2 separate regions of the Homo sapiens genome follow, and region 1 is linked to region 2. The links come from fine-mapping of genetic effects on gene expression. A gene starts in region 2. The other region holds a variant in brackets. All regions are shown on one strand. Distances are between the middles of the regions.

Region 1 (10,868 bases), 49 kb after region 2:
TAATGTCAAATTTAAATTATTTTTATCAACTTACTTTACCAGTCATTTTCAAGGGAGCATTTATAAGTTTATTAAGTTTCTTTGCATATTTTAAACTGAATTGATAAATTTATATTTGAGTTTCATTTTAAATACCTCAATTTTCTCACAAACAAATCTTCTCAAGATCTTAGATAAAACATCAAAATAATCATATAAATATAGTAAAACTGAAGTTCTCCTAAATATTCCAATATAATTTATAAGTTTTGCAAAATTCTCATATAACTTTCAATATAAAATTCTCAAATCTAATCATTAATTCAACTACACATTTAAAATTAGTAACCACTGAACTCTCTAATATGCCCAATTCTCTTACCATTGCAAACCTTTAAATAAAAGATATATAGAGACTATTCCTAATCTGTACACAAAATTTTAAGAGCATGGATTCAATTCAGTTTGTCATATGTATATTATTTATAATCTTTCTGGAATTAAAACTCACCCATGTAGAAAGCAGTTCAAGATCCAAGATTTTGGAATTTTCATCTTAGACACTTGAGGTAGAATATCAAACCTAGAGCTTTTGGCTGTGATGCGAGATACAGAGCTGCAGAGATTTCATTGCTGACTCCTCTTTACATCTTTATGTCTTACTCAGAGGGCTGGTTCCTCTATTCTACATTAATTTACAACTATGGTTCTTGATGCCCATGAGTTCCATGAAGTTGCCTTGAATACTACCTTGGGAAGCAAGGTAGAGAGTAAGCTAGTGAGAATCTGGAATTTACTTGAGGGGTTCCAAGTAATATTTGCAAAAAGTTCTCTGCTACTGAATGCTTCAACCAAAGTTTTATGCTTTGGGGTTTGAGGTAATATGTGAAGAAAAGGTTCTGCTACTGAAAAAAATGTTTTTACAACACCATGTGGAAGATCTTAGTCCGTAGAGGAATAATGTAGTTAACTATATCTGTAATTTATTTGGACAGTAATCCAATAAGCTGTAGAGATCTGGTTTCCTTCCTATTAACTCTTAATCTGGCTTAAGTTGCTCCTGATAGAGCTTTCTGTGATCTGGTACAAGGAATACCATCACCACCAACTTTAGTGTCCACTAAAAAACTGAGGAGACTTCAGATGTTGTACTTAGTTCACTGAACATACCAGTCTGATGCCTCCTTGTATGTTCTTCCTAGGATGTTCTTCTATAAGACTTATGTGTAATAAGAAGTGGTAAACTGAGGACATTATATGTATAGAAGACCCTCAGAAGACCTGTAAGGAAATGCATGACATTAGGAAATAGCTAAGCATTGTATCACTGCAAGTGTGGATACTCTCTATTGTCTGTAACATGCGAATAGCCATTCAAATAGAGTTGAGCCCCACTACACTCTCCAAATACTGGGACCACATTGAGGAGGCACTGGTCAAAGGTGATCATGATTGTGTGTATCTCATATCCATGCATGTTCAGTCATCATAATTATCTCCAAAAGAATTTTTAGAGCATTACACCTCACAGAAATGTTGCATTCTGACATTGCAGCTTTTCTCACATGTTCTATAATAGGCAGTTCTGGCTGTAAACAGTGCATATCGAAGTGGATCCTTCTAGCTATAATGTCAATGGTGCAAGTCAAACTGGAACTGGAAAAATGAGGCTTATGTCTTCTGATTTACATAAGATGATGGAGAATGGAATGATCAGAACTTCAGTAAACATGAGTTTTTACCCTCTAAAGTATTGTACACTGTCCTTAACTGATATGTTTCATATCGAGTGTGGAAGTCTACCCTACATAGACAATCTTGAGAGTAAGAAAGAGGGACAAAGGTATTACTCTAGCCTGAAAGGGTCTTGCGAAACAATGTCTCCTGACTTCATTATTTAAAGTGCTGGTTTGGGCATAGAGAAGGTGGATTGGTGCAGGTTAGTGCAAGGCAGAAAGTTAAGCAGGGTTTTGAGTTGCTGCTAGATCAAGGGTCCATTTTTGTGATCAAACTCTTAGGACACAGACATTTGGGGTGAGGTGTATGTAATAACTGACAAAGCCCAGGGAGATGACACAATCATCAAAAAGGACAGAGGAAGGGACCACGAGCTTGGTCAGATTCTCAGATAGGTATGTGGCTTAGGGAATTATAAAAAGTACTTTGACTGGGAGAAGCTCTTGTCTAGAAGTAGACCTCTGTAGAAGTTTAGGATGTGATATTGACTAACAGTGTGCCTTGGACAAGTTGCTTAAATTCCTTAAAGCTGCAGTTTTTCTTTCTGTGCAGTGGGAATGATAATACCTGTTTCAGCATCATTGTCAGAAACACATTGTCAGGAAGCACATTGTAAATCCAAAATGCTTTAAAATGCAAAGTGTTCTGGTGTAGCACAGATCCATTCTTTAATCAAAGTGAAGAGTTGTGTTTGATGAGAAAAGAAAGCAGAAAATTTGTTTGTCAAGGAAAATAAAGTTTCTATATGTGACAATGACATTTTTAATGAAGCAATTATTTGTTTGAAATGCACTGATTGCTTTGATTATTTGTATCATATGTGTTGGTAATAACAATAGTGATACTGATGCCTTATATTTCCAAAGTTTATAGCACTCTTGATTTATCTTACCAGATGTTCCCGATAGCTGTGTCTTACTCTTGAATGTTGAATAGGTTCATGACTGGGACCATAGTGTTCCATTGCCATGGTTTCACTGGATTTCATAAACTGTTGCTTAGCAATCCCACCTGTCACCCAGCTATTTTCCCTTTGCACTGTCTTCACATTGTACCACCAGCAAAATGTAGCTGAGCCTCTTGGTGAGGGAAAATACTAGTCTCCTAACAAAGTTTAATCTTCCCACTTTGGGCTATTTTCTTTTTTAAAAAAATCAGAATGCCAGATGCCAGAGAGCTTTATATTTTAGTGATAAATATAGGGTGTGTGGAGTCAAAGCAGACCTGTATTCACATCTTGGGCTTGACAACTTATTAGCTATTTGATCTTTAGTCAATTACTTAATCTCTCCATGTCTCATATTCTTCATCTATAAAATGTGATAATTATATTCATCCCAGGGGGATATTGTGAGGATTAAATCAGATAACACATCAAAAATGCACCCGGCACTTAATAGGGCCCCATAACTGTTATTTGCATTATTAAGACAGAAAGCAGGTGGTAAAAACACATCTGCCTAATGCACACCTTTCTGCAGCAGACTGCTCTAATGTGCTGGTGAGAGTCTTAAAATTCTACATCAACTACTAACGTTGAAAAACCTAGTTTTGATAGCTGGTATAAGGCTATAATGCAACGCTTACAATCAGCTTGTAATCAGTGAAACACTGATCAATACATTCCTATTGGTCCAAATGCCAGTTCCATGGGTCCAAATGACTTTAATCCCTAGATGAGTGACAGCATGCTGTATGTATGTTATATTTTATTTGCTTCTAATAGATATCTGTAGGTGGCTATCTGAATGGATACTGCTAATGAAGTAACATGAGACTCAATGTCTCCATCCTACCTAACAACAACACTAATATGCCCGTTTATATTGTATATGTATCCATAGGAAAACAATGTTTACTTAAAATTCTCTATTGCCTTTTAAGGAAGTCAGTTATACTAAGTGGAGGAGATTGTTTTTTTCTGAGTGCTGTTTTTAGCTTTAGAATACTAAATGTCTTTTTACATATTTCAAGGCAAAATTCAGTAAAGGGTAAGGTGTTCCCATTTAGCTTTAGAAACTGAGAGATTCTTACATTTGATTTATAATTGTTCTATTGTAATGGGGGTAGAGGGGAGCTGATAACCAAGTAGGGCAAGATCTAGAGAAATTTAGAGGCTTCCCAGAAGAAGAATATAGAGGGGAATCCTTCTGGTTAGAGAATGTGGCCAATGCAGGTTTTTCTGGTGAAACACTGAGGAATAAACTTCATCTGCTCCCTGAAATTCTCACTCACTGCTGTGATGTGAATGGATTATTCTAAAAAAGTCTAGGCCGGGCACAGTGGCTCACGCCTGTAATCCCAGCACTTTGGGAGGCTGAGGCAAACGGATCATGAGGTCAGGAGTTCGAGACCAGCCTGGCCAACACAGTAAAACCCCATCTCTACTAAAAATACAAAAATTAGCTGGGCATGGTGGCGGGTGCCTGTAATCCCAGCTATTCGAGAGGCTGAGGCAGGATAATCGCTTGAACCCAGGAGGCGGAGGTTGCAGTGAGCCAAGATCGTGCCACCGCACTCCAGCCTGGGTGACAGAGCTAGACTCCATCTCAAAAAAAAAAAAAAAAGAAAGAAAGAAAGAAAAAGAAAAGTCTGAAAATATTCTGATTCCTATTTCAGGTTTGGGTTTGGAAATAAGAGTCTGCGTGTCTAGGTAGCAAACATGAGGTTTACATTTAATCTCCACAAACCACACTTGTGTGAATGAAGAAGCATGATAATGTGAAAAGACATAGAGATCACCATTCACAGGTTACACAGCAATGGAGGGTATGTACTCTGCTCTAGCTAGAAGCCTACAGTCTAAATAAGCACATGAGAAGCCTGAGGCAGTCTCCTGAGTCACGTGATAATTGAAAAGTCTCTAGTGAGAGGCCCTAGGCTCCTGGGGTTTCTGACACTGCCCTCCTAAAGGAATGCTTGAGTTTCATTTTTTTTTCTTTGTTTTATTATTATACTTTAAGTTTTAGGGTACATGTGCACAATGTGCAGGTTTGTTTCATATATATACACATGTGCCCTGCTGGTGTGCTGCATCCATTAACTCATCATTTAACTTTAGGTATATCTCCTAATGCTTGTATCACCACAGATACTAACTAGAAGGAATATTACTGTACCTGCTGTCACTCAGATACCAGCTGGGGCAAATCTTGAGAGCTCTGTAGAAGATAAGTGGAAACTTCCCAGTTGAGAAGATTCAAACAGTTTCCTTGAAAACAAACTTTCAAAATCAAAATAATACGGTCATAAATCATTTACAATCACTCTTTTTACCATTTAGAAATTATTTTTCAGCATTAATTGTTTTGTTGCTTTTTCTCCCAGGCCACAAGTTTATTCCTGTCACTTTTAAAAATATTTTGATCCTTTGTTTTTACTAAGGCAATGGATATTTTTTAACTTTTCTCCCCCAAACAAATTGTGCACTTATCAGAATCAAGGGGCGTTATTGATTTTGTATTTCATAAAGATGATTTTTATAGATTTTTATGTCTATTTTAACATTTTATTTATTATTTTCCATATTTGAACATTTTAATATATTTTCATAAAGATGTACCTACTGTATTTTTAATTATTACAAATTGTTCATACATGTAGAATAATCATTTGGAAAACAAAAGGTTGACAAACAGAAGGGTGATCAGAGTGATTAATCCCCAATTAATCCATTCATTCTTGGAACATGGTAACTCATTCTCTCACCTTTATGGAGATAAGCACAAAAAGTGATATTTTACACTGTTTGTAAAGTAAATATGTGTGTCTTTGGAGAATGTTTTCTCTTGTAAGCATCCTGTCTCAGTATATACCCAATCCTTGGTCAGCTCTAAAAACGGCTGCTTGGGACTAAAGCTAGACAAAATGGATTCAATTGTGAAGCTGTTAGTAGGCAGAACCTGGCAGTGGCAAGAAGGTAAACTGAGCACACGAATTAAAGCAGTGAATTGAGAGTAAATTGAAATGTAAATCAATCTGGAGCAGAACTTGAGAGGAGCTGGACACTATGGGGAAGATAATAAAAGGACAATTGAAAGAGGCATGAGAATACAGAATGTTTTTTATTATACTTTAAGTTATAGGGTACACGTGCACAATGTGCAGGTTTGTTACATATGTATACATGTGCTATGTTGGTGTGCTGCACCCATTAACTTGTCCTTTACATTAGGAATATCTCCTAATACTATCCCTCCCCCTTCCCCT[G/A]ACCCCACAACAGGCCCCGGTGTGTGATGTTCCCCTTCCTGTGTCCAAGTGTTCTCATTGTTCAATTCCCACCTATGAGTGAGAAAATGCGGTGTTTGGTTTTTTGTCCTTGCAATAGTTTGCTAAGAATGATGGTTTCCAGCTTCATGCATGTCCCTACAAAGGACATAAACTCATCCTTTTTTATGGCTGCATAGTATTCCATGGTGTATATATGCCACATTTTCTTAATCCAGTCTATCATTGATGGACATTTGGGTTGGTTCCAAGTCTTTGCTATTGTGAATAGTGCTGCAATAAACATACGTGTGCATGTGTCTTTATAGCATATAATCCTTTGGGTGTATACCCAGTAATGGGATGGCTGGGTCAAATGGTATTTCTAGTTCAAGATCCTTGAGGAATCGCCACACTGTCTTCCACAGTTGTTGGACAGTCCCACCAACAGTGTAAAAGTGTTCCTATTTCTCCACATTCTCTCCAGCACCTGTGTTTCCTGACTTTTTAATGATCACCATTCTAACTGGTGTGAGATGGTATCTCATTGTAGTTTTGATTTGCATTTCTCTGATGGCCAGTGATGATGAGCATTTTTTCATGTGTCTGTTGTCTGCACAAATGTCTTCTATTGAGAGGTGTCTGTTCATATACTTTGCCCACTTTTTGATGAGGTTGTTTGCTTTTTTCTTGTAAATTTGTTTGAGTTCTTTGTAGATTCTGGATATTAGACCTTTTTCAGATGAGTAGATTGCAAAAATTTTCTCCCATTCTGTAGGTTGCCTGTTCACTCTGATGGTAGTTTCCTTTGCTGTGCAGAAGCTCTTGAGTTTAATTAGATCCAATTAGTCAGTCTTGGCTTTTGTTGCCATTGCTTTTGGTGTTTTAGACATGAAGTCCTTCCCATGCCTATGTCCTCAATGGTATTGCCTAGGTTTTCTTCTAGGGTTTTTATGGTCTTGGGTCTAACATTTAAGTCTTTAATCCATCTTGAATTAATTTTTGTATAAGGTGTAAGGAAGGGATCCAGTTTCAGCTTTCTACATATGGCTAGCCAGTTTTCCCAGCACCATTTATTAAATAGGGAATCCTTTCCCCATTTCTTGTTTTTGTCAAGTTTGTCAAAGATCAGATGGTTGTAGATGTGTGGTATTATTTCTGAAGGCTCTGTTCTGTTCCATTGATCTATATCTCTGTTTTGGTACCAGTACCATGCTCTTTTGGTTACTGTGGCCTTGTAGTATAGTTTGAAGTCAGGTAGTGTGATGCCTCCATCTTTGTTCTTTTGACTTAATTGACTTGGCAATGCAGGCTCTTTTTTGGTTCCATATGAACTTTAAAGTAGTTATTTCCAATTCTGTGAAGAAAGTCCTTGGTAGCTTGATGGGGATGGCATTGAATCTATAAATTACCTTGGGCAGTATGGCCATTTTCACGATATTGATTCTTCCTATCCATGAGCATCGAAAGTTCTTCCGTTTGTTTGTGTCCTCTAGTATTTCATTGAGCAGTGATTTGTAGCTCTCCTGAAGAGGTCCTTCACATCCCTTGTAAGTTGGATTCCTAGGTATTTTATTCTCTTTGAAGCAATTGTGAATGGGAGTTCACTCATGATTTGGCTCTCTGTTTCTCTGTTATTGGTGTATAGGAATGCTTGTGATTTTTGCACATTGATTTTGTATCCTGAGACTTTGCTGAAGTTGCCTATCAGCTTAAGGAGATTTTGGGCTGAGATAATGGGGTTTTCTAAATATACAATCATGTCATCTGCAAACAGGGACAATTTGACTTCCTCTTTTCCTAATTGAATACCCTTTATTTCCTTCTTCTGCCTGATTGCCTTGGCCAGAACTTCCAACACTGTGTTGAATAGGAGTGGTGAGAGAGGGCATCCCTGTCTTGTGCCACTTTTCAAAGGGAATGCTTCCAGTTTTTGTCCATTCAGTATGATATTATCTGTGGGTTTGTCATAGATAGCTCTTATTATTTTGAGATACGTCCCATCAATACCTAATTTATTGACAGTTTTTAGCATGAAACGTCATTGAATTTTGTTGAAGGCCTTTTCTGCATCTATTGAGATAATCATGTGGTTTTTGTCTTTGGTTCTGTTTATATGCTGGATTACATTTATTGATTTGCGTATATTGAACCAGCCTTGCATCCCAGGGATGAAGCCTACTTGATCATGGTGGATAAGCTTTTTGATGTGCTGCTGGGTTCGGTTTGCCAGTATTTTACTGAGGATTTTTGCATCAATGTTCATCAAGGATATTGGTCTAAAATTATCTTTTTTGGTTGTGTCTCTGCCCGGCTTTGGTAACAGGATGATGCTGGCCTCATAAAATGAGTTAGGGAGGATTCTCTCTTTTTCTATTGATTGGAATAGTTTCAGAAGGAATGGTACAAGCTCCTCCTTGTACCTCTGGTACAATTCGGCTGTGAATCCATCTGGTCCTGGACTTTTTTTGGTTGGTAAGCTATTGATTATTACCTCAATTTCAGAGCCTGTTATTGGTCTATTCAGAGAGTCAACTTCTTCCTGGTTTAGTCTTGGGAGAGTGTATGTGTCGAGGAATTTATCCATTTCTTCTAGATTTTCTAGTTTATTGGATATAGGTGTTTGTAGTATTCTCTGATGGTAGTTTGTATTTCTGTGGGATTGGTGGTGATATCCCCTTTATCATTTTTTATTGCATCTATTTGATTCTTCTCTCTTTTCTTCTTTATTAGTCTTAATAGTGGTCTATCAATTTTGTTGATATTTTCAAACAACCATCTCCTCGATTCATTAATTTTTTGAAGGGTTTTTTGTGTCTCTATTTCCTTCAGTTCTGCTCTGATTTTAGTTATTTCTTGCTTTCTGCTAGCTTTTAAATGTGTTTACTCTTGCTTTTCTCGTTCTTTTAATTGTGATGTTAGGGTGTCAATTTTGGATCTTTCCTGCTTTCTCTTGTGGGCATTTAGTGCTATAAATTTCCTCCTACACACTGCTTTGAATGTGTCCCAGAGATTCTGGTATATTGTGTCTTTGTTCTCATTGGTTTCAAAGAACATCTTTACTTCTGGCTTCATTTCATTATGTATCCAGTAGTCATTCAGGAGCAGGTTGTTCAGTTTCCATGTAGTTGAGCAGTTTTCAGTGAGTTTCTTGATCCTGAGTTCTAGTTTGATTCCACTGTGGTCTGAGAGACAGTTTGTTATAATTTCTGTTCTTTTACATTTGCTGAGGAGTGCTTTACTTCCAACTATGTGGTCAATTTTGGAATAGGTCTGGTGTGGTGCTGAAAAAAATGTATATTCTGTTGATTTGGGGTGGAGAGTTCTGTAGATGTCTATTAGGTCTGCTTGGTGCAGAGCTGAGTTCAATTCCTGGATATCCTTGTTAACTTTCTGTCTCATTGATCTGTCTAATATTGACAGTGGGGTGTTAAAATCTCCCATTATTATTGTGTGGGAGTCTAAGTCTCTCTGTAGGTCACTCAGGACTTGCTTTATGAATCTGGGTCCTCCTGTCTTGGGTGCATATATATTTAGGATAGTTAGCTCTTCTCATTGAATTGATCCCTTTACCATTACTTAATGGCCTTCTTTGTCTCTTTTGATCTTTGTTGGTTTAAAGTTTGTTTTATCAGAGACTAGGACTGCAACCCCTGCCTTTTTTTGTTTTCCATTTGCTTGGTAGATCTTCCTCCATCCCTTTATTTTGAGCCTACGTGTGTCTCTGCCCGTGAGATGGGTTTCCTGAATACAGCACACTGATGGGTCTTGACTCTTTATCCAATTTGCCAGTCTGTGTCTTTTAATTGGAGCACTTACCCCACTTATATTTAAAGTTAATATTTTTATGTATGAATTTGGTCCTGTCATTATGATGTTAGCTGATTATTTTGCTCATTAGTTGATGCAGTTTCTTTCTAGCCTTGATGGTCTTTACATTTTGGCATGTTTTTGCAGTGGCTGGTACTGGTTGTTCCTTTCCATGTTTAGTGCTTCCTTCAGGAACTCTTTTAGGGCAGGCCTGGTGGTGACAAAATCTCTCAGCATTTTCTTCTCTGTAAAGTATTTTATTTCTCCTTCACTTATGAAGCTTAGTTTGGCTGGATACGAAATTCTGGGTTGAAAATTCTTTTAAGAATGTTGAATATTGGCCCCCACTCTCTTCTGTCTTGTAGAGTGCCTGCTGACAGATCAGCTGTTAGTCTGATAGGCTTCCCTTTGTTGGTAACCCAATCTTTCTCTCTGGCTGCCCTTAACATTTTTTCCTTCATTTCAACTTTGGTGAATCTGACAATTATTTGTCTTGGAGTTGCTCTTCTCGAGGAGTATCTTTGTGGCGTTCTCTGTATTTCCTGAATCTGAATGTTGGCCTGCCTTGCTAGGTTGGGGAAGTTCTCCTGGATAATATCCTGCAGAGTGTTTTCCAACTTGGTTCCATTCTCCCCGTCCCTTTCAGGTACACCAATCAGACGCTGATTTGGTCTTTTCACATAGTCCCATATTTCTTGGAGGCTTTGTTCATTTATTTTTATTCTTTTTTGTCTAAACTTCCCTTCTCACTTCATTTCATTCACTTCATCTTCCATCACTGATACCCTTTCTTCCAGTTGATCGCATTGGCTCCTGAGGCTTCTGAATTCTTCACGTAGTTCTTGAGCCTTGGCTTTCAGCTCCATCAGCTCCTTTAAGGACTTCTCTGCATTGGTTATTCTAGTTATCCATTCCTCTAATTTTTTTTCAAAGTTTCTAACTTCTTTGCCATTGGTTTGAATTTCCTCCTGTAGCTTGGAGTAGTTTGATCATCTGAAGCCTTCTTCTCTCAGCTTGTCAAAGTCATTCTCTGTCCAGCTTTGTTCCGTTGCTGGTGAGTAGCTACGTTCCTTTGTAGGAGGAGAGGCACTCTGTTTTTTAGAGTTTCCAGTTTCTCTGCTCTGTTTTTTCCTCAT
Region 2 (10,868 bases):
AGCAGTGCAAGCCTAGAGCCCACTTCTCCTCCAGTCTCTGAGCCCCAGATTACTCCAGTTATTCTTCTATGTAGTCTTGGCTGAGCTGAGCCCCTCCTTTGACAAAGTGCCCTCACAGGGATTTTCAAAGAAATTCCATCTGCTCTTTGACATTTAACTGTTCCATGGCTCACGAGCCCTGGAGGAATCTGTGTACAGGTCTCAGCACATCTTCGTAAGAATCACCCTTCTCCACCTCCACCACGACTCCAAAATAATTTCCTCCAGAAGGCCAGAATTCTACCTTTCTGCCAAAGAAAAGAGTCGGGGGGATCCTGCCCGCTACCCACCTCACAGGAGCCAACGTGAGCCCAGGCCGAATCCAAATCTCCCTTTGGTCATGGCCATTGTCTGCTCTGCACTTGCCTGCTGGGGCCAAGGCCGCAACACTGGGCCCAAGGAGGATGCCCTGGAACCTGTCTTTTTTTCATGGGCAGATGCCCACTGTTTGCTGTCTGTCAGCATCTTATCCCGGTTGCTCTGCTCAAGGGAAGAGGTCTGCCAGTATCTTCTGCATTGGCAACAGTATCGGAGCAATGTCACAGGCTCAGAAACATTGTTGTTTGCTTGGTCCACCGTGGGAAAGCCAGGACCTAGGATTTTGAGGACTGATGGAGGGTGCTGGGTAGTTAAGTTTCTGGGGAATGTGTCGTGATGGGGAAGTCCACTTGTCTTGGAAGGAAATGCTCACTCCACACATATGATCCCTCAAAGATGCCTGGCAATAGGGCCCCAGCCCTTCCAAATAAAGGGACAGACTGCCACAGCTAATCCTGAAAGTGCAGATTAATTTTATTTTCCCACACCTCCTCACCTGACCCCGGCATGTTCCCTGTCACTCCTACCCTGCCATGTGTCCAAGTTTGAAAACAGAAGACTTTCCCAGCCCCAGCTGTCCTGGAGATGGAGTCTTTCCCTGTAGCATAGCAGCATGGGCTTCAGACTTGGCAGGCCCTGGGTCCACCTGCAAGGCTGCCAGTGACCAGCCAGCTGATCCTGGCAACTTGCTTGTGAGATCTGAGTTGGGGTTTTCTCCTCTGTAAACTCGGCCTGGCCTGGTGGCATCTCCCTTGCAGGACTACTGCAAAGTTAGAGACAATGCATGAAAACAGCAATCAAAGTGCCTGGAACAATTTAGGCACTCGGTAAATGCCAGCTGCCAAGTTTGCTAGGCTTTGGGCAGCTTGGGGCTCTCTATCCTTGAGTTATCCTAACAACTGGAGTGTTCTAGGACCCAGAAACTCAATCGCTTTTCAGAGGCATCCTTGCACCTAAAACTGCAGCTTTCCCACTTGCTTTGTGGAACCTCCGCTGGGGTGGGGCCAGTTTAGGTTTCAGATTTACTCAGCAAGAGGCTTGCACCTGGATGTCTCATCTGGATGCCCCGCAAAGCTCAAAGAATTTTTGTAAATGGCACGGTGAATGTTTTCTTTTTCTCTCCACCTTCCAGAAGCCCCTTTCCCTGCCTCTCCCTCACCCCTGTCTTTCATTTCACAGCCACCGGAAGTCCCGCCCTTCTTCAGCCTTTATCTAATCAAAGGAAGTTTAACTCTTTGCAGTACTCCTGTAGTGTGTTAGGGAGACTGAACCCCCAGGCCACAAGAGAATAAGCCTGGCCCATTGATCGCTTCCTTCTTGCGCTAGGGCAGGTCACCTGTCACCCAATCCCTTGTTTCCCAATCCCCTGCAGAGCCTCCTGCCTGAGGCCTTCAGGATTCCAGCAGTCATCTCTCTGACAGGGCAGCTGGAGGTATTCTCCCAGTCTTTCTCCTCTTATACTGCTGGTTCTCTGACTGAATTAAGCTTCTTGGCCCGTACTTGCAAAGAACCATTTTAGACCATTGGATGATAACTTGCCACCAGAGCCGAAGAAAGCATGGATTCAGACAGGGTTGGGGAAGACATTACCTCTTCCCCTGAGCTAGCCGGAGGAGCATCCTGTTAAATGGGCAGTAATCACACCGGCCTGGCAGAGATAATATGTGGCATGCCTCTGGGACAGGCAGGTGCTCAACAAATCTTTTTACTCTGCAGCTCTCCCACTTACTAGCTGACTGACCTGGGGCTGACTGACTGCTGTAAGCCCCCTTGGGTAAAAGGGCGGGTCGGGGGAGGAATGTAATCCGGCCTGGTCCCCAGAAGGATTGGATGCCGCGGCCAGGGTTACTCACACCTCTTCCCCTGCCTTCACGTGGTGTTTCTTTTGAGGACAGAGACCTTGAGAGTGCACTAGCAGGCAGAGACCGGCAGCAGGGTGGCCTAGAGGAAAGCACTGTGGGTTTGCAGGGAATGGACATAGGGTCTTGTCTAGGATCTCTCTCTTGCCACTTCTGTGGCTCTAGAAGAGAAAGTCACCGAGGAACCTGGACCTCAGATTCCCACCTTGTTTACCTCTGGAGGTGGTATTGATAAATACAGCTCCTCCCAGGGCAAAGAACAGGCCTTTTGATTTTCTGCAGCTCCAGTTTCTAACACACTGTCTGAATCCCAGAAGGCGCTCACCATTTTCTGGCTTGCTGAATGAATTTGGAGCTGCTGATGGGGTCATAGTTACTACTTTTGTTTGAAGCCTCCTTGGCCTGCAAGCTGAGGAGAGTGGGTCCCTGGGCCTTCTCCAGAAGGTCATTTGCTAGCCTACCCTGCACCTAGTGACGTTACTTTGCACACAGCTGGAAGCAGCGTGAGCCTGGATGTCAAGAAGGAAGAAGGTAGCCTGACCACTCTTTTGTGTGTTATAGCTGCTACCATGAGCCCCACAGGGCTAGGTTGGGCACTTGTCACTAGTGCTCCCCAGCAGGGGACCTAGTTCATGCAGTGCTTAGCTCTTGGAGAAAAGGTGGTAGGATTTGCGCCTGATCCCACATGACTTAGTATAGCATGGGCCATCGTGCCAGGTACCAATCCGGACTTACTCCATTGCCCCTTTGCCCCCTTGGACACACACACTTTTAAACAATGTGTGCACCCTAACGAACCATAGTTCCTGAGAGAAGTGCAAGGTTACCTTTCGGAGATGCCACAGGTGGAGCCTTTTCTCTGGCTCATCCAGTATCTCAGAAGTTCTGCTTTTTTATAGCCTTTTCTCGAATTATTTCAGGGTTGTTATTATTAACCATTTTTATTGTCATTAGTTTAAAGTCAGCCACAACACCCACCCTTTGAGGGTCTGCCCCGCTCACTTCTTCCCTTGCCTCATTCCTTGTTCTCCACTTTCCCCTTCATATAACCTTAACAGTTCGGTGAAGAGTTTATTTCCAAATGTCCACGCTACCTTCAGTGCCTCCATTTTTACTCCCTCCCCTTCTTCTCTATTATTTCCAAACCTCAGATTGTCCCCTCACCAAGATTTTCTGACGGTCTCATCTTTTTTTATTTCTGAAGTACCCCATGACAACCTTTTCCCCTGCAACCACCCCTTCTCTCTGCCCTCCTCCTCTCAAGATGATTTTTGTGTATTTTCTACTTCCGTGGCAGGCACCCTGTGATGTCCTCTTCTTTTTGCCAGTGCTCCCTCCCCTATGCTGGGTGGAGTATCCAATCAAATATCTAATACATAATATTTTCATCATATATTCTGATCGTATATTTCAGTCCCCCCCAAACTTATTTAAGTGTCTCTTGAATTTTCACACATCCTATGGTGCTCCCTTCCCCGGCCCACTCCCCAAGACAGGTCACATAAGGTTTTTTACATTTTCATGGCACTTCAGGCTCGTTCTCTATCCCAGCATTTACTGCACTGCCAGTTTACCTATTTTTCTTTCCCACATAATCTAGAACATTCTTTGGACCTGGAGGATGTGTACTAGGGAGTATCCCTAGAATCTAGACTGGTGCCTCACATAACAGGTGGTCAGAAAATGCGCAAGATGTACTATTCGTTAGGCTTTTATTTTTCTCTATGTTCTGCAGTAACTAAGGAAAATCATGGTAAATGTCAATCTTCACACAACAGCAGACACAAAGGGTTTCAGAAACGTCAGATATGAAGAAATCCTCCATCCTTCTTCAACATTTTACTGGGTATTTCAACTTCAAAAGAACAGCTTATTTCTATAAGTGCTGTACAAGATCATAGATTATGATGGAACGACTTCATTTTAGAACGTTAGCAAAACTGTTATACTAAATGTCAATGACAGGAAACAAAGAAAAAAATTTGTTCAATTATATTTTTAAACATATTGTTATTCTCAACAAACGGAATTTTAAAACGAATACAATTTTCCATTATCAAAAGCAAACACTCTATTTCGCAGTTGAACAATGATCACTGATCACAAATATCAAATACAGTGTCCCCCGCCCCCAATCGACATCATTTTCAACTTAGGACCCTGGCATCTACTCCTTGGGGTACCTGTGACTCTCTTTTACACCCCCAAGGGTCTGCCTCAGATCTACTTAAGGGGCGGAATAACCCCTAGCACCTGAATTGAGGATAGCCTCAACCTCTGCATCATCGTCCGAATCCCAGTCATAATTACAAGGCCAGTCTTTAGAGCATCGGTTACGAACCCTTGCCACAAAATGCATGACTTTCAGTTTGCTCGATTCCACGTGTGCTCGGGGCCCCCAGAAGAACTCATACTCCACCGGACTGCTACGGGGCACCGGTTTATAAATCAGGTACCCTCTGCGCACAAACTCTTCTGTGACGATCTTCTTCGGATCTCCAAAGATGCTGTGCTGACGTCCAGGCTGCATTCCTAACTTCCCCAGCACTTTCCAGACCAGAGCTTCCTTGGCGCTGTTGCCCATGATGAAGATGAGCGCTAATATAGACATCAGGAGACTTTTCTTGGTGCCCTGAAAATTGCTCCGGGGCACTGAAGGCTTTTGTGCTTGGGCAGTGCTCGAGGCTTCTTCAGGGGTGGTAGAGGCCTCCTCTGGAGTGCTCGGGTCTTCCTCGGGGCCGCTCAGGTCGTCTTCGGGGGTGCTCGCTACCACAGAGGCGGCCATAGGGGTCTCGGAGGCCTCTGAGGCCTGGATTTTGCGATTGTTGCGGTTCTCTTCTGCGGCTCTCGCATTACGGCGGCGCCGACTCTTTCGTCCCCGAGGCATGTCTCCTGCTAGAGGCTCAAAGCTTACAGCAGTCCTAGGGAAGGATGCTTGTAGCCTCTTCAGGAAGCAACAGCTTTATACCGTAAGAAGCTGCTGCCGCTGAAGCTACCAATGTCAATAGAGTCTTTGTAGCAATAAACAAGCCGTTCTCAGCTACAAAGGGTAGTTCCCACGCCAGCTGACTTGCGCGAGCAGCCGCCGCCAGCACTTGCCGCAGCTGCAAGCCCGCGAGAAAGCTCAGCAAAATTGGCCCCGCCTCTCCTGCCACGCACACTCCTAGCACCAAAGAGGAAGTAGGCTGGTCCTCCACAGGGACTTCCGCTAGCAGATAGGAAAAGGGGCAGGCAGCGACAGGGGTGGGACAAGGGCAGAAATGACAGCTAGAGATTGGAGGGGCCTGGAGTTTGCAGAAGAGAAAAAAATAGCTTAAAGTTTCTGTATTTTCAGCCTACTACAAACATTCCAAGATTGGCTCGACGGTCTAGGGAAGGAGTGCGTCGGCTCCATTCCCACTGACGACGGGCTGTGTGTGTGTTGGGGGTTGGGAGGCCAGGGGTGGCGGGAGGGTGTATTCTTGGAAGGAGTCAGCTGTCTCCAGCCTTCCTTTCCTGTCTTGGCTTACACAGCGCGTTCATTCACTCGCCCTGTTTTCAGAAGGCATTTGTGTGTATACTAATCAATTTGTGGTCCCATGTAGGACCCGGATAATATTGTTATGGCAGATGTGCTGGATGATGTGAGGAGATGGGACTGCAGAAACAAGCAGGGTGAAAGAGGTGCAGAGCCTTTAAAATGTGGTAGATATATGCACGATATATATACTGCCCTGCTTTTATACATACATACATACATACCTATATCGTGCATATATCTACCACATTATGTTTATATACAGTGCATATATCTACCACACATATATGTATGTATGTATGTATGAAAGCAGGGCAGTGACAGGATCAGAGGAATTGCATTTGTGCAGCCTCTCAGAAAAGCAAACTGTTTCCTGGCAGACCACATAGGAAGCAATTGGAATAAGAAGCACTGGGAACTAAAGTATGCCTTAAGGCTGTTGCCATGGGGATGGAGAGGCAGAAAGACATTTTAAAGGTGACCGTTGAAGGGCTTTGCAGACAGAATGGATGAAGTGGGGAATGTGGAGGGGATGATGGAGTTCAGATTGGCTCCAAGGTTTCTAGGCTCCAGTCTTCCTGGACTCCTGATTTATTTTGCTTCTTTCAGAGCATACTCTGAACTTTATCCACTGCTTGCTTTTGCTCACTGTTTGCTCTGCCTGACCTGTCTTCTCAGCCTTCTCCAACTATCTAAATTCCATTTGACTGCTCACAGACCTGTTTCTCCCTGAAGCTTGTCTTGATCTGCCCAAAAGGGTAATGAGTCCATTTTTACTCCATTGAGGAAAGCCCTATAACTAGCACTCTATATCTTTCTTATGTCATTCAAGGTATTAGTTTAAGCAAGTCACTTCTCTCTAAGCCTGTTTTCCCATCTATAAAGTGGGGCTAAAGTACAGCCCTCATAGGGTTGTGAGAATTAAATGAGATAAAAAATGAAAAGCATTTATTACATGGTAAGCACAGATTTTGCCTCTCAAGGTTTTCCAAGCGGTGTGTGAGTGTGGCATTTAATAAATGCGTGCTGAAGGAATTCATGATGGAAAAGATTTTATAGGTGTTCTTAACTGAACTCTTAAGAAACAAATGAATACTTTATGCCTGTCTTGCTGAAATTTTCTTTATAATTAGAGCCCACCGAGACCTCCTGTTGGGTAAGTTAGCAATAAATCAATTTGGTCAAGCAAAGAAAGCACCTCTCCAGGACACAGAGCACTCTTGAGCCAGCCCTCCGTTTGGGATAACCTTTGCACGCGTTCTGGGACATGACCTACTCAAAACAGTAGTCTGGCTCCATCTGCTGTCCCACATTCTGAGAATTCTCGCAGTTTCTGGTCCATTGATAATTGCTCTGAATTGTTTTTCAGTACAGGTATGAACTTATTTTACTGTTTCCAGGAATTTGGGTCTTGCATGGAAGTCTATAGCATGTACAATCCTACCCTCATGAAACAAAAATGGGAGGATTACTTTTGCAGTTTATTTGCTTGTTTTTAGCATGAATTTTTTTTTACTGCGACTTAATCTCAAACGTAGGGCAAAGAAGAGAGATTAATATTATAAACACCAATAGCTAGCTGTATAAAATTTAAATATTAGGCCCTACTTACTGTTTATCTTTTATATATTGGATATGGCAAAACCCTCCTATTACGTCTTCCCTGACCCACTCTGCTCTCTCCTTCCCCACTGTGCTCCTCTATAATGAAGTCAGCAATTATGCCCATGGAGACTTGTATATATTTGCTACCTACTTCTGTGTCTGTACACAATATAGAATCTCTTCCTTTATTTAAAGCACGTCTTCATAATGTATACATTGATCAACACTTTGGTTTTCCAGCTCAACTTTATATTTTTTATGTTTACCCATGTAAATACATGGAACTCTAGTTCATTTATTTTAATTTTGTACATTTCATCATTTTCAATTTATCCTGTTCCTAATGATCCACGCCTATGCAGTTCCCATTTTTCCAAAACAAAATAATACTCTTATTAATATTTGTGCGCATGTTCCCTATGAACATGTGCATGCATTTCTCTAGGATCAACATCAACGAGTAGGGTTGCTGATGTGTTGGCATGTATATGTTTAGATAGAACACATGGCTTTCCACTTTGTTTCATTTATAAAAATCAAACCATTCCATATTGAATTTCCAGGCAAACCTTTTTCCTAATTAATAATGAAATCTCCTCAATTTATACCTCTAATTCTTTCATTCTAGTGGCTGAATGTTATTCCTTGCAATGGATTTACCATAATCTCTTCAAGTGTCTGCCTGTTGGCTGGGCGTACTGTATTTCCAACTTATTTAATTTTCTTTTTCTATTATTATTATACTTTAAGTTCTAGGGTACATGTGCACAACGTGCAACTTTGTTACATAGGTATACATGTGCCATGTTGATTTGCTGCACCCATTAACTCGTCATTTACATTGGGTATTTCTCCTAATGCTATCCCTCCCCCTACCCTCCACCCCACGACAGGCCCCAGGGTGTGATGTTCCCCTCCCTGTGTCCAAGTGTTCTCATTGTTCAATTCCCACCTATGAGGGAGAACATACAGTGTTTGGTTTTCTGTCCTTGTGATAGTTTGCTCAGAATGTTGGTTTCTAGCTTCATCCATGTCCCTACAAACGACATGAAATCATCCTTTTTTATGGCTGTATAGTATTCCATGGTGTATATGTGTCACATTTTCTTAACCCAGTCTATCATTGATAGACAGTTGGGTTGGTTCCAAGTCCTTGCTATTGTGAACAGTGCCACAATAAACATATGTGTGCATGTGTCTTTATAGTAGAATGATTTATAATCCTTTGGGTATACACCCAGTAATGGGATCACTGGGTCAAATGGTATTTCTAGTTCTAGATCCTTGAGGAATTGCCACACTGTCTTCCACAATGGTTGAACTAATTTACACTCCCACCAGCAGTGTAAAAGCTTTCTTATTTCTCCACATCCTCTCCAGCATCTGTTGTTTCCTGACTTTTTAATGATTGCCATTCTAACTGGTGTGAGATGGTATCTCATTGTGGTTTTGATTTGCATTTCTCTGATAACCAGTGATGATGAGCATTTTTTCATGTGTCTGTTGGCTGCATAAATGTCTTCTTTTGAGAAGTGTCTGTTCATATCCCTTGCCCACTTTTTGATGGGGTTGTTTGTTTTGTTGAAAATTTGTTTAAGTTCTTTGTAGATTCTTGATATTAGCCCTTTGTCAGATGGGTAGATAGTAAAAATTTTCTCCCATTCTGTAGGTTGCCTGTTCACTCTGATGGTAGTTTGTTTTGCTGTGCATAAGATCTTTAGTTTAATTAGATCCATTTGTCTATTTTGGCTTTTGTTGCCATTGCTTTTGATGTTTTAGTCATGAAGTCCTTGCCCATGCCTATGTCCTGAATGGTAATGCCTAGGTTTTCTTCTAGGATTTTTATGGTTTCAGGTCTAACATTTAAGTCTTTCACCCATCTTGAATTAATTTTTGTATAAGGTGTAATGAAGGGATCCAGTTTCAGCTTTCTACATATGGCTAGCCAGTTTTCCCAGCACCATATATTAAATAGGGAATGCTTTCCCCATTACTTGTTTTTGTCAGGTTTGTCAAAGATCAGATGGTTGTAGATTTGTGGTATTATTTCTGAGGGCTCTGTTCTGTTCCACTGGACTGTATCTCTGTTTTGGTACCAGTACCATGCTGTTTTGGTTACTGTAGCCTTGTACTATAAAGTCAGGTAGCATGATGCCTCCAGCTTTGTTCTTTTTGCTTAGGATTGTCTTGGCAATGTGGGGTCTTTTTTGGTTCCATATGAACTTTAAAGTAGTTTTTTCCAATTCTGTGAAGAAAGTCATTGGTAGCTTGATGGGGATGGCACTGAATCTATAAATTACCTTGGGCAGTATGGCCATTTTCACGATATTGATTCTTCCTACCCATGAGCATGGAATGTTCTTCCATTTGTTTGTATCCTCTTTTATTTCATTGAGCAGTGGTTTACAGTTCTCCTTGAAGAGGTCCTTCACTTCCCTTGTAAGTTGGATTTCTAGGTATTTTATTCTCTTTGTAGCAATTGTGAATGGGAGTTCACTCATAATTTGGCTCTCTGTTTGTCTGTTGTTGGTGTATAGAAATGCTTGTGATTGTTGCAAATTGATTTTGTAACCTGAGACTATGCTGAAGTTGTTTATCAGCTTAAGGAGATTTTGGGCCGAGACAATGGGGTTTTCTAAATATACAATCATGTCATCTGCAAACAGGGACAATTTGACTTCCTCTTTTCCTAAGGGAATACTCTTTATTTCTTTCTCTTGCCTGATTGCCCTGGCCAGAACTTCCAATACTATGTTGAGTAGGAGTGGTGAGAGGGGGCATCCTTGTCTTGTGCCGGTTTTCAGAGGGGATGCTTCCAGTTTTTGCCCATTCAGTATGATATTGGCTATGGGTTTGTCATAAATAGCCTTTATTATTTTGGGACATGTTCCATTGATACCTAGTTTATTGAGAGTTTTTAGCATGAAGGGCTGTTGAATTTTGTCGAAGGCCTTTTCTGCATCTATTGAGATAATCATGTGTTTTTTTGTCATTGGTTCTGTTTATGTGATGGATTATGTTTATTGATTTGTGTATGTTGAACCAGCCTTGCATCCCAGGGATGAAGCCAACTTGATCATGGTGGCTAAGCTTTTTGATGTGCTGCTGGATTCGGTTTGCCAGTATTTTATTGAGGATTTTTGCATCAATGTTCATCAGGGATATTGGTCTAAATTCTCTTTTTTTGTTTTGTCTCAGCCAGGCTTTGGTATCAGGATGATGCTGGCCTCATAAAATGAGTTAGGGAGTATTCCCTCTTTTTCTGTTGATTGGAATAGTTTCCGAAGAAATGGTACCAGCTCCTCTTTATACCCCTGGTAGAATTCGGCTGTGGATCCGTCTGCTCCTGGACTTTTTTTGGGTGGAAAGCTATTAATTATTGCCTTAATTTCAGCAATAATTTCAGTTATTGGTCTATTCAGAGATTCAACTTCTTCCTGGTTTAGTCTTGGGAGGGTGTGTGTGTCCAGGAATTCATCCATTTCTTCTAGATTTTCTAGTTTATTTGCGTAGAGGTGTTCATAGTATTC

Which allele goes with the higher level. Alleles are on the strand shown, and positions count from the first base shown. SD is a standard deviation of normalised expression in the study named.
For the expression in prostate of the gene that starts at base 5,351 in region 2, A is the low allele of the variant in region 1 and G is the other (small effect, 0.31 SD a copy in GTEx).

The links. PIP is the estimated chance that this variant, and not a neighbour inherited with it, causes the effect.
Region 1: its variant is fine-mapped to the expression of MAGEH1 in prostate (GTEx, PIP above 0.99).

The regions. Positions count from the first base shown.
Region 1 is chrX:55,397,568-55,408,435 of GRCh38, reverse strand. No RefSeq gene overlaps it. Among named protein-coding and RNA genes, the nearest start is that of MIR4536-2, 48 kb to the left of the region's middle. The variant G/A (reference allele first, on the strand shown) is at 5,926.
Region 2 is chrX:55,446,610-55,457,477 of GRCh38, reverse strand. MAGEH1 (MAGE family member H1) reads right to left here and starts at 5,351. Exons shown (of 1, transcript NM_014061.5): 1 at 3,912-5,351. The coding sequence starts at 5,103. The coding sequence ends at 4,444. MIR4536-2 (microRNA 4536-2) reads right to left here and starts at 5,983; the gene lies at 5,896-5,983. MIR4536-1 (microRNA 4536-1) reads left to right here and starts at 5,896; the gene lies at 5,896-5,983. RefSeq lists enhancers at 4,889-4,938, 5,089-5,138.